Linked DNA regions of Homo sapiens: region 2 is linked to region 1. A link means that fine-mapping ties the variant in region 1 to the expression of a gene that starts in the linked region. Tissue or cell type: whole blood. Region 1 holds a variant in brackets; the other region holds the start of a gene. All regions are shown on one strand. Distances are from middle to middle.

Region 1 (6,380 bases):
GATCTCCATGTTGATGTGTGTGTGATCTCCATGTTGATGTGTGTGTGATCTCCATGTTGATGTGTGTGAATGTGATCTCCATGTTGATGTGTGTGTAATCTCCATGTTGATGTGTGTGTGTGATCTCCATGTTGATGTGTGTTTGTGATCTCCATGTTGATGTGTGTGAATGTGATCTCCATGTTGATGTGTGTGTGTGATCTCCATGTTGATGTGTGTTTGTGATCTCCATGTTGATGTGTGTGAATGTGATCTCCATGTTGATGTGTGTGTAATCTCCATGTTGATGTGTGTGTGTGATCTCCATGTTGTGTGTGTGATCTCCATGTTGATGTGTGTGTGATCTCCATGTTGATGTGTGTGTGTGATCTCCATGTTTATGTGTGTGAATGTGATCTCCATGTTGATATGTGTGAATGTGATCTCCATGTTGTGTGTGTAATCTCCATGTTGATGTGTGTGTGTAATCTCCATGTTGTGTGTGTGTGATCTCCATGTTGATGTGTGTGAATGTGATCTCCATGTTGATGTGTGTGTGTGATCTCCATGTTGATGTGTGTGAGTGATCTCCATGTTGATGTGTGTGTGTGATCTCCATGTCGTGTGTGTGTGATCTCCATGTTGATGTATGTGTGATCTCCATGTTGATGTGTGTGTGATCTCCATGTTGATGTGTGTGTGTGATCTCCATGTTGTGTGTGTGTGATCTCCATGTTGATGTGTGTGTGATCTCCATGTTGATGTGTGTGTGTAATCTCCATGTTGTGTGTGTGTGATCTCCATGTTGATGTGTGTGAATGTGATCTCCATGTTGATGTGTGTGTGATCTCCATGTTGATGTGTGTGAGTGATCTCCATGTTGATGTGTGTGTGTGATCTCCATGTCGTGTGTGTGTGATCTCCATGTTGATGTGTGTGTGTGATCTCCATGTTGATGTGTGTGAATGTGATCTCCATGTTGACGAGTGTGTGTGATCTCCATGTTGATGTGTGTGTGATCTCCATGTTGATGTGTGTGTGATCTCCATGTTGATGTGTGTGTATGATCTCCATGTTGACATGTGTGATCTCTGTGCTGTGTGTGTGATCTCCATGTTGGGGTTGATGTGTGTGTAATCCCCATTTGATATATGTGTGTGTGATCTCCATGTTTGTGTTGTGAATGTGATCTCCATGTAGATGTGTGTGAATGTGATCTCCATGTTGATGTGTGTGTAATCTCCATGTTGATGTGTGAATTTGATCTCCATGTTGATGTGTGTTTGTGATCTCCATGTTGATGTGTGTGAATGTGATCTCCATGTTGATGTGTGTGAATGTGATCTCCATGTTGATATGTGTGAATCTCCATGTTGATGTGTGTGTGTGATCTCCATGTTGATGTGTGCGAATGTGATCTCCATGTTGATGTGTGTGTGTGATCTCCATGTTGATGTGTGTGTGATCTCCATGTTGATGTATGTGTAATCTCCATGTTGATGTGTGTGTGTGATCTCCATGTTGATGTGTGTGATTTCCATGTTGATGTGTGTGTGTGATTTCCATGTTGATGTGTGTGTGTGATCTCCATGTTGACTTGTGTGATCTCTGTGTTGTGGGTGTGATCTCCATGTTGGGGTGTATGTATGAGCTCCACGTTGATGTGTGTAATCCCCATTCGATATGTGTGTGTGATTTCCATGTTGATGTGTGTGATCTCCGTGTTGAGGTGTGTGATCTCCATGTTGATGTGGGGTATGTATGTGAGCTCCGTGTCCCTGTTGCTCTTAGAGGGTCTGGAATCATCCCCCTTGAAGAAGAGGCAGGGTCTCTGCAAAGAAGATGGGAAGCCCGGGGCAGGGGAAAGTCCCTGTGTTTCCCTGGGCTGGGCTGGGTTCCGTTTTTTCCTCACATCCTTTGTGCTCCCAGATGAGAAAGCTCCTGGCTCCTTGGGCTTCCTGTACTCTGGGCCACCCCAGGCAGGTAGGAAGTAGTTCAAGGACGTGATCACTGGTCCAGGTCCACTAGGGCCTGGGGCCTCCCCATCCCTGGGCTGGAGAGGCTGGCTCAGTGATGCCTCCACTTAGATTCCACTTAGACCTGTAGCAGGACAAGCCACAGACAAAACCCCTCAGACACCAAGTTAAAGAAAGAAGGGGTTTATTCAGCCGGGAGCATCAGCAAGACTCCTGTCTCAAGAGCTGAGCTCTCTGAGTGAGCAATTCCTGTCCCTTTTAAGGGCTCACAACTCTAAGGGAGTCTGCTTGAGAGGGTCATGATCGATTGAGCAAGCAGGGGGTACATGACTGGGGGCTGCATGCACTGATAATTAGAATGGAACAGAATAGGACAGGGATTTTCACAGTGCTTTTCTATAAAATGTCTGTAATCTATAGATAACATAACAGATTAGGTCAGGGGTCGATCTTTAACTACCAAGCCCAGGTGTGGTGCCGAGCAGATTTCATTTCTGCCTTTTAGTTTTTACTTCTTCTTTCTTTGGAGGCAGAAATTGGGCATAAGACAGTATGAGGGGTGGTCTCCTCCCTTATTCCCCTCTTTTGAGAATCTCACTCATGAGTGGGAGTTCTCACTTTCATTTTCACTACCATGTCTTCTTGCAAGACAGATCAATAGTGATTCACATAGTACACTTGGGCTGAAGCATTTTGGTGAACTAAGGTAGCGATGAAGCTTTTTATCATTTGAAGAAGTACAGGTAGCAAACAAGGGAGCAGTAAGCAGGTTCCTATTACTATTAAAACTCCTATTATAAGAGTTTTAAATCCTCCTAGTGCTGGGAACCATTTTCCAAACATGGCCCCAGGATCAAATTCATGCCACACTTGCACGGGCACATGTGCCAGTTTTGTCCTATCTCTAACTATATCTTCAACTACTTGTCCTTGATCATCTACGTGTAGACAGCAATTAGTAAGGTTAAATTTCCCATAGACCCCTCCTTCAGCTGCTAGCAAGTAGTCGAGAGCCAATCTATTTTGAGAGATAGCATTTCTCATCTGAGTTTCTTGCCAGGCCAGAATAGTCAAGGCTCTGCTGATTTTATCAGTGATTATTTCTAAGGCAGCTTGTAACCGTATGATTCGGTTGAGCACGTAAATGGGGGTCTGGTATCCCCACAAGCCGTCTTGTGCCCAAGTAACAGGCCCATAATATTGTATGATTCTCTCAGGGGGCGGCCATTCATCATCTTTCCAATTTTCTATAGCTATGCTTCTCTTTTTG[C/T]GGGAAGCATAGACAGGGAAGCCCAGGAGTTCACCTGTTTTTATGGGCAGTTGGAAGAAAGATGGTTTAATAGTGCCAATAACACAACTACCTGCCCAGTGGTCAGGTAATTTGGCGTAAGCTCTATGCCCACATATCCAGTATAATCCAGTGGGGGCTGTCCAGTCCTGGTGGGACTCCGGGTGGGTCCACACGGTTTGCAACTTTGGGAATTTACTAAATGGATTCCTCTCTATGTGATTTGAACTCCACCAAGTGACTGTTTCTGTGGTACCATTATACAGTTTCTGTCCCAGACAACTAAGTCGTCCTACGGGGTGAGTGAATTCTTTTCCTTCTCTAGCTATGCAATATTGTCCAATAATTGAGGCTTTTGGGACCCAGAAATTATCAGGGTGATTCTTTTGAGCCAAGAATTCATCAGGAACTGGGTCTGTAGGTAGTAATTCTTGGGCTTCCCATGGCCATTGACCTCCCATTACAGTTCCTCCGCATACATAACATGAAGTGACATTGAGAGACTGGGCTACGTGCTCGGCTAATTGCAAAAACAAATTTCTTGTTTTTCCTGGAATTTGTGGTACTGGCACATTGAGTTCATCTTAGAAAGTTTGAAACACTGGCTCAGGAGAGGGTTTGTAAACTTCTCCTCGGACCAAGTCCTGTACTGGCCAGTAGTCCTTGGTCCCTGGTTTAGGGACAGGTAGGAGGGGGGTGTTCCGTGGAGACTGGCAAGGAACTATAATTCCATAGGCTGTCAAGCGCCTGAGAGGAACCTGGATTCCTTCGAGAGCTTCTCTGGGAACCAGATACTGCTTTTGTCTAATTGGTTGGGCCCCAGGCTTAACTTCTATGAGTACAGGGGCTTGGCTGACCACCAGTCCTGGAGGATTATCCTCTGTCCATACTTGGGGCCATTGCTTAGCTAGAGCTGGTTTTATCTCTTGGCCTGGCTTGGTTAGAAAAAGTCTTCATTCTTCTTCCCGGGGGACCGTAAGGGCCATGATAACTCCTGTTGCTGGTAACTTTAGCTGTAAAGAGCCCTGCTTTGTAAAGGAGATGGTGGTTCTCAACTTGCTAAGCAAGTCTCTTCCCAGCAAGGGCAAGGGACAGTCAGGCATGTACAAGAACTGGTGAGCTATCTCATGTCCCCCCACCGAGCAGGTCCGTGGTAGACAGAAAGCCTGCTTAGTGGAAACTCCTGTTGCTCTGATTATATCAATGGTTTTCTTGGATGAGGGGGTGACCGGGGTGGTCACTACTGAAGGTTCAGCACCACTATCAACCAAAAACTTAACGTCCTTGCCCCCAGTTGTAATCCTGACCTTGGGCTCCTTGGGGGTGCTTGCGCCCGGTCCCCTTCAGTCCAGTAGCCCTTCAGCCAGATTGAACAAAGCTCCCTCATCTTTATCTGAGGTCTTTTGTTCTGAATCACCTTGCTTTTCCTTCAGTTGGGGACACTTATCTTTCCAATGCCCTACTTCCTTACAACAGGCGCATTGGTTACATTGCAAGCATGGGAGATTAGACTGGGTATTCTTCCCAGAACCCCCCTTTCCCTCTCCTTTCGGGGGAATTCCCATAATGGCCATGGCCAGTAAGTCGGCGTTTCGCCTAGCCTGGCGTTCGCCTTCCTTACGGCTTTCTCTGTGGCTTGTTGCATTCTCAAACACTTGATTGACTATTTCCAGTAACTGTGAGGTATTCATACCCGCAAACCCCAGTAACTGTGAGGTATTCATACCCGCAAACCCAGCCTGTTTCTGCAATTTTCTCCTGATATATTCCGTGCTTTGACTAAGTAAGGCCATGTTAATCATGGGCTGATTCTCAGGGCTATCTGGATCAAAAGGAGTGTACATACAGTAAGCCTCACACAGTCTTTCATAGAATTGTGCTGGACTCTCCTCTTTTCCTTGGATGACCTCAGAGACCTTATTTACATTTGTAGCCTTTTGAGCCCCTTTCCTTAGACCTTCTATTAATGCCTCACGGTACCGTCTTAGCCTCTCCATGTCTGGTCCCTCGTTCAGGTCCTATTGGGGGTCTGTTCCTGGCAGCTGAATTCTTATATATTCTTGGGGGTTTTGGTAATTGGCTGGGACGTGCTTCTCTAGCCACTTAGTTGCCGCCTGGAGCACCCTTCACCTTTCACCTGTATTAAAGAGGTACATGAGCAGCTGGTGGCAGTCAGCCCAAGTAGGATTATGAGTCTGTATAATAGTTTGGAGCAAGTCAATTAAAGCTTGAGGCTTTTCAGTGTAAGATGGAGTATTATTTTTCCAATTGAGGAGGTCAGCAGAGGTAAAAGGTTGATACACAAAGGCACGCCTTTCCACCATGTGTCCGTCCTCATCTACCCCAGTATATCACTGCTCTCTCAGGGGCATTTGGATTCCAGTCTTGGGCTGTAAGCGAGCTTTCAAGGGAGGAGTTTCTCCCGTGGCTTCACTTCCTCTTTTGTCTACTCTGGGTGGTCTGGGGTGTGGTTATCTGGTGGAGTTGTAGGTGCTGTGGGCTCAGGAGTGGGGAGCCCTTCCTCTTGATAAGGAGGGGATACTGCTGGTACCAATTCCTGCTGTGACTCTTCTGGTGTTGGGTTGGACAGGACTTTTGGTGCTGACTTCCCTCGGCGGGTGGGATCGAGAACCTTCCTTAACTAACTGTCCCTTTGCTACTAGTACTGCTGCTGCCTGTCCTCTTAACCACTGCGGGGGGTCCAAAACTAGCTGTAACCAAGAATCTATATGTGAGAACTGATCTGGGTGCCCTGGCTTACAGGTTACCCTGTGCCATACCTTCGAGACAAGGGACCTGTCCAGGCTTCCTTCCGATGGCCAACCCACCTCTAATGCTGGCCAGTCTATCTCACACAAAGCTCTAAGTTTTCCTGGTGTCATAGTGACTCCAGAGTCTCCCTTAAATCCCTTTTTGAAATTTTTCAACATAGTTCCTAGTGGGGTAGGCTTACTTTGTGTCTGACCCATGTTTCCTCGAGACAAAACACCATGCTCACACCACAAAACAAAGAACGGGTAAAAAGGGCACACACACACTTTTACAGTTTACGCCAAGCCAGAATCAAAACCAAAATCAGAGTATCAAGAAATCCAAGCCAGGTCAAAACCAAAACCAAAGTATCAAGCAATCCAAGA
Region 2 (6,014 bases), 330 kb before region 1:
GTCTCAGCTACCCGGGAGGCTGAGGCAGGATAATCGCTTGAACCCAGGAGATGGAGGTTGCAGTGAGCCAAGATCGCGCCACTGCACTCCAGCCTGGCAACAGAGCGAGACTCCGTCTCAAAAAAAAAAAAAAATTAAATTAAAAAAATATATAGAGAGAGACAAGTACAGAATACTATAATACTGTAACTGTGGTATGTAAGTCACTTTTAATTTTGGTATAGAAATTAAAGACAAAGGTATAAAAACAACTATAAAAATTTGTTAATGGAGACAATATAAAAAGATGTAATTTGTGACATCCACAACATACAAGGGGGTCATAAAAGAGCAGAGTTTTTGTATGCAATGGAAATTAAGTTATCAAAACAGATTGTTATGTTTTATATAAGCCACATGGTAACCACAAAGAAATACCTGTGTAAGACACACAAGGAAATGAGAAATTCGTTTCTCAAAGTATGTCACTACAAAAAAAAAAAAGTCAACGAAATATAAAGGATGACAAGAGTGGAAAAGAGGAGCAAAAAGGTTGTAAGACAGAGAACAGTTTACAAAACGGCAACAGCAAGCACAGTTGGCCCTCCGTATCTGTGGGTTCCACACCTGTAAATTCAACCAACTGCACACTCAACCAACTGTGGATCAAAAATATTCAAAAGAAATAAATAATACAACAATTAAAAAACAACTAAGATATAGTATAACAAGCATATACATAGCCTTGACATTGTTTTCGGTATTATAAGTAATCTAGAAATAATTTAAAGGATATGGAAGTATGTGTGTAGATTATATGCAAATACTATGCCATTTTATATAAGAGACTGAGCTTCTGCAGAGTTTGATATCCACAGCGGATCCTACAACAGTCATCCCATGGATACAAAGGGATGATTGTACTTCCCTATTTTATTTATTTTTTGAGACAAGGTCTCACTTCCAATGCCCAGGCTGGAGTGCTGTTGCAAAATCAAGGCTCACCGCAGCCTTGACTTCTCAGACGCACTCCCGCCTCAGCCTCTCAAGTAGCTGGGACTACAGGTGTGTACTACCACACCTGACTAATTTTTTTTAGTAGAAAAGGGGTTTTGCCATGTTGCCCAGGCTGGTCTCGAACTCCAGGACTCACACGATCCACCCACCTCGGCCACTATTTACTTTAGGTATAAATGGATTAAACTCCAGGCCTGGCGCGGTGGCTCACGCCTGTAATCCCAGCACTTTGGGAGGCTGAGGCGGGCAGATCACGAGGTCAGGAGATCGAGACCATCCTGGCTAACACGGTGAAATCTCGTCTCTACTAAAAATACAAAAAATTAGCCAGGCGTGGTGGGGGGCGCCTGTAGTCCCAGCTACTCCTAAACCAGGAGATTGGCGTGAACCCAGGAGGTGGAGCTTGCAGTGAGTCGAGATCATGCCACTGCACTCCAACCTGGGCGACAGAGCGAGACTCTGTCTCAAGAAAATAACATAACATAACATAACCTCCCCAACCAAAAGACATGAAGTGGCTGAATATAATGAATTAAAAAAAAGATTCAACTATATGCCGCACAAGAGACATTTTATTAAAATCTGGAAATCAATGGCAAAAGAAAAGGTGGAAAATTCACAAATATGTGGAAATTAAACAACACACTCTTGAACAATCAATGAGTCAAAGAAGACATCAAAAGGAAAATTAGAAAATATCTTGAGACACGCCGGGAATGGTGGATCACACCAGTAATCCCAGCACTTTTTGGAAAGCTGAGGCAGGAGGATCACTTGAGGCCAGGAGTTTGAGACCAGCCTGGGCAACATAGTGAGAACCTGTCTCTACGAAAAAAAGAAAAAAGAAGGGAAACAACAGGCCGGGCGCGGTGGCTCACGCCTGTAATCTCAGCACTTTGGGAGGCCGAGAAGGACGGATCACCTTAAGTCTGGAGTTCGAGACCTGCCTGGCCAACAAGGTGAAACCCCATCTCTACAAAAATACAAAAATTAGCCAGGCATGATGGCGATGCCTGTAATCCCAGCTACCTGGGAGGCTGAGGCGGAAGAATCGCTTGAACCCGGTAGGTGGAGGTTGCAGTGAGCCAAGTTCGTGCCATTGCACTCCAGCCTGGGCGACAAGAGCAAAACTCCGTCTCAAAAAAAAAAAAGGAAAACAACAAAAAACAAACAAAAAGGAAATATCCTGAGACAAACTAAAACCCAACATATACAAAATTATGAGATGCGACAAAAGCTGTACTAAGAAGGAAGTTTATAGTGTAAACGCCTACATCAAAAAAGAATAAAGATCGAGTCCCTGGGTCTGCAGGAAAAAAAAAAAAGAATAAAGATAGGGATGGGGGTAGGAGGGGAAGATAGAGGCAAAGTTAGTTACTTTATAACAGCAGGCTAGGAAAAAAGAATAATAAGTTCCAGTGTTCTATTACATATTAGAGTGACTACAGCTAATAACACTGTACTGTATATGTCAAGATGCTAGAAAAAGATCTTGAAAAGTTATTACCGTAAATAAATGATAAAGATTTGAGGTGATGGACATGCTAACTACGCTGATTTGATTATTCGATGTACACATGTATTAAAACATTATACTGTACCCCCATAAACACGTACAATTATATGTCAATTATAAACAAACAAAAAGCTGAAGATACTATGTGAAACCACGAAAAGCATTAAAGACTAAAGAACGGGGAGAAGGGGAGCCCAGGGAAGTTGGGCTAATCCCGCCTGGGACGTAGGTGAGAGGCGAATTGGGTCTTGGACGATGACTGATCGTTTAAGCAGATATTTCCAGACCGGCACACAGTAGGCTCACCAAAGAATGGAAGCGACCTTTATTTCCTGAGTTGCAGGATCGGCCTCTCCCTGGGCCTGCCCTTGCCCTGCGCTATCGGGCAGACGAACTCTCCCCAAGATAGAGACCACAGAGGAAGACAAAGGGTAATCCCCGCTGCCGCCCGCCCCGGACGCTAGAACGTTCTCTCTCCTCACCAGCGACGAAGTCGAGAACACTGTAGACACCGCCATTTTCCCCACCTGCACCGGAAACCGGCTGCGCGGGCACTTCCGGGAACTCCTAGCCGCCCGGCCAGCCGACCACGGCAGCCACGGAGGAGCTGAGCCGGAAGGTGCGTCCCTGCGCATGCCGGAAGTGGCGGTGCGTGTGACGCCGGCGGCGGGGGGGGCGGGACCTGGGGCGGAGAGCGGTTCGCGCGCTTCGGGCCTAGTCCGGACTCGCCGCCGCCGCCGCCATATTCCCGGTAACGGGGGCGCGCGGTCGGGGGCAGGTTGGGCCGGAAGAGGGGTCCGGGCCGGCACTGAGGCGGGAAGGGGGTCGGTTGAGATGGGACGGCCGGAGTCTGCGGGCGGAGGGAGTCGCGGGCCTTTTGAGGGAGGAGGCAGAGCGCGCCGGGCCGGGTTTGTCGGGAGGGAGCGGGGCGGGCCTAGCTGGGGGCGAAGAGTAGGCCTGGGTTGGGGGCAGAGGCGGCTGGAGCTGCTTGACACCTGGGGGCTCTGGCCGGAGCCGCCTTGGGGGCTAGGCAGGTGCAGCGGATAGGGGCTGCGGGCTTCGCCGCGGTCATTCTTCGCAACGCCGTCCTAGGGCCACTAGGACCCGAGGGTGGGACTTTTCCGTCGCGCCATAGGCAGCTGCGGCGCAGACGCGGCGCTACCCGGGTCGGGCCCGAGGGTGATGGGCAGCGACCCCCGGCGGCCTGGGAGAGCGGTGGGCGGCGCGAGGCCGGGGGCGGGGCGGAGCGGGTGGGGCCGAGCTGGGGCCGCCAGGATGCTGCGTCTCTGGAGATGGGAGGTTAGCAATCATTACCCTCTTCCCAGCCCAGGACCCTCGTGCCTTCTAATTCTTGCATTTTTCCGAATCCCGCAGTGGCATCTTCCTTACTTTGTCCATCCTCCGGACTCGCGATCTTCCTTCCGGAGCCATGTCAGAAGGAGTGGACTTGATTGATATATATGCTGACGAGGAGTTCAACCAGGTGAGGTGTCATCAGGAGCTTTGGGATTTTCCTTGATCATCTGAGGAATCATTTTCAGCAAACTGGCAGTGGTTTCAAGCTGTACCAGTCCTAGGCTTGAACACGCGTCTATCCGGTCTAAAATTTTTCTCCTGCAGAAACTTTAAAGACTACACTCCATTCCTCTTTATGTTAATTTGAAGCTCCAGGCTTAATTTTAAAGGCTTTGATTTAAGAGCAAATAAAAAGCAGGTGTAATAGAATGGTGAATCAACCTGTGGAATTTACTCCCCAGGAAGCCAAAGGTGGGTGTCAGACTAACCACACTTAAAAATCAAAAGTACATTTGCTACGGTATTCATGAGGACAGTGTTGATACCGGTTCCTTTACATTCTCAACCTGCAGCTGGAGAAGTGTAGTCCCCTCCATCGTGACAGTGCAAAAGCAAAGTAGAAAAGATGACTTTAACATTTAGTTTCAACTCCATTCCAATTAAGTTTTACTTCCTTTTATAAGTAGGTTGACTCCAGTCATGAGAAGTCCACAGGCATTTTGGTATAATAAATTGTATTGGTTACCTTTAGTCTTTCTAGAGGGAATAAAAGAGTAAAGACGTTAGACAAACCAGTTAGAAAACTGATAATAGACCCATGCACATACCCTCAGTTGGATTTGTTTTTATTGTACCAGGGAACATTATACAGAAATTTATCTAGAGCTGGGCAAGGTGGCTCTTGACTGTAATCTCAGCTGCTCTGGAGCCTGAGATGGGAAGATTACTTAAGACCAGAAGTTCAATACCAGCCAGGGCAACATACCAAGACCCAGTCTACAAAAATGTAAAAAAAAACAACAACGAGATATGGTGGCTTGTGCCTGTAGTCCCATCTACTCTGGAGAGTGAGGCAAGAGGTACTCCCTGAGCCCAGGAATTCAAGGCTGCAGTGAGCCATGATTGGGCCGCTGCACTCTATCCTGGGCAACAGAACAAGACCCTGACTCTTAAAAACACAAGAAAAATTCTCTCAAAGAAATAATCTTCCATGCAGTTAAGTTTTTCAGTCTTGAGGTCAATTCTCAAGAATGTTCCAAAATTTCTATTGAAAACGTACTAATATCTTGCCTGGGTTATTTTCAGCACCATTCTATGTAAGTAAGCTGGCTCTTCCCATTTGCATCTTCCAGTGGGTACACATAAGGACCTGGTAAGAGCATGTATTGAATGGGTTAGAAAGGGAAAGTTCCCTGGTTTGACCCTGACTTTGATATGAGGCAACAGAAGAGGCGGATACATGCCATTTATTTTTCACTTGGCATAAGTTTACATGAAAATCTATTTTTTGATGTATTATGGTTTTATAACATGGAAATTATAAACCATACACAAAAGCAGAATAATGTAATGACCTTGTACCCATTATACAGCTTCACCAATTATACTTTTTAATGGCAGGTTTCTTGTCTCTGTTGTGGTTAACTGTGGTCCTTTAAATATAGCTGCTGATTATCTTAAATAGATGAATTTTCCTTTTTTTTTTTTTTTTTTCTTGAGACAGAGTCTCTCTCTGTCACCCAGGCTGGAGTGCAGTGGCGCGATCTCGGCTCACTGCAACCTCTGCCTCCCAGGTTAAAGTGATTCTCCTGCCTCAGCCTCCTGAGTAGCTGGGACTACAGGCGTGGGTCACCTCACCTGGCTAATTTTTGTAATTTTAGTAGAGACGGGGTTTCACCATGTTGGCCAGGTTGGTCTCGAATGCCTGACCTTGTGATCCGCCCGCCTTAGCCTCCCAAAGTTGGGATTACAGGCGTGAGCCACCGTGCATGGCGAAAAAATTTTTTAGTTTTAAATAAGTCCAATAATTATGGATAAAAGAGAAAAGTTCTAGATGTTAATTTAGTTACAAAATCATTGTTTTCCTGAGTTTTCCATATTCATTTGAATCAGACTTTTAATACCTTAAAAAAAAAAACACACAGTCTTGCTGTGTTGCCTAGGCTGGTCTCTCAACTCCTGAGCTCAAGCGATTCTCCCACTTCAG

What was found. PIP is the estimated chance that this variant, and not a neighbour inherited with it, causes the effect.
Region 2: it holds the start of SDHAF2, and the variant in region 1 is fine-mapped to the expression of SDHAF2 in whole blood (TOPMed, PIP above 0.99).

What each region holds. Positions count from the first base shown.
Region 1 is chr11:61,094,542-61,100,921 of GRCh38, reverse strand. It overlaps a transcript of CD5 not described here. Among named protein-coding and RNA genes, the nearest start is that of CD5, 4.8 kb to the left of the region's middle. The variant C/T (reference allele first, on the strand shown) is at 3,226.
Region 2 is chr11:61,427,163-61,433,176 of GRCh38, reverse strand. It overlaps SDHAF2 (succinate dehydrogenase complex assembly factor 2), which reads right to left and starts at 3,053. Exons shown (of 4, transcript NM_017841.4): 1 at 2,995-3,053. The coding sequence starts at 3,030. CPSF7 (cleavage and polyadenylation specific factor 7) reads left to right here and starts at 3,202. Exons shown (of 10, transcript NM_001142565.3): 1 at 3,202-3,263; 2 at 3,887-3,995. The coding sequence starts at 3,942. RefSeq lists enhancers at 2,923-2,982, 3,339-3,987 and silencers at 2,929-3,264, 3,123-3,292, 3,403-3,832.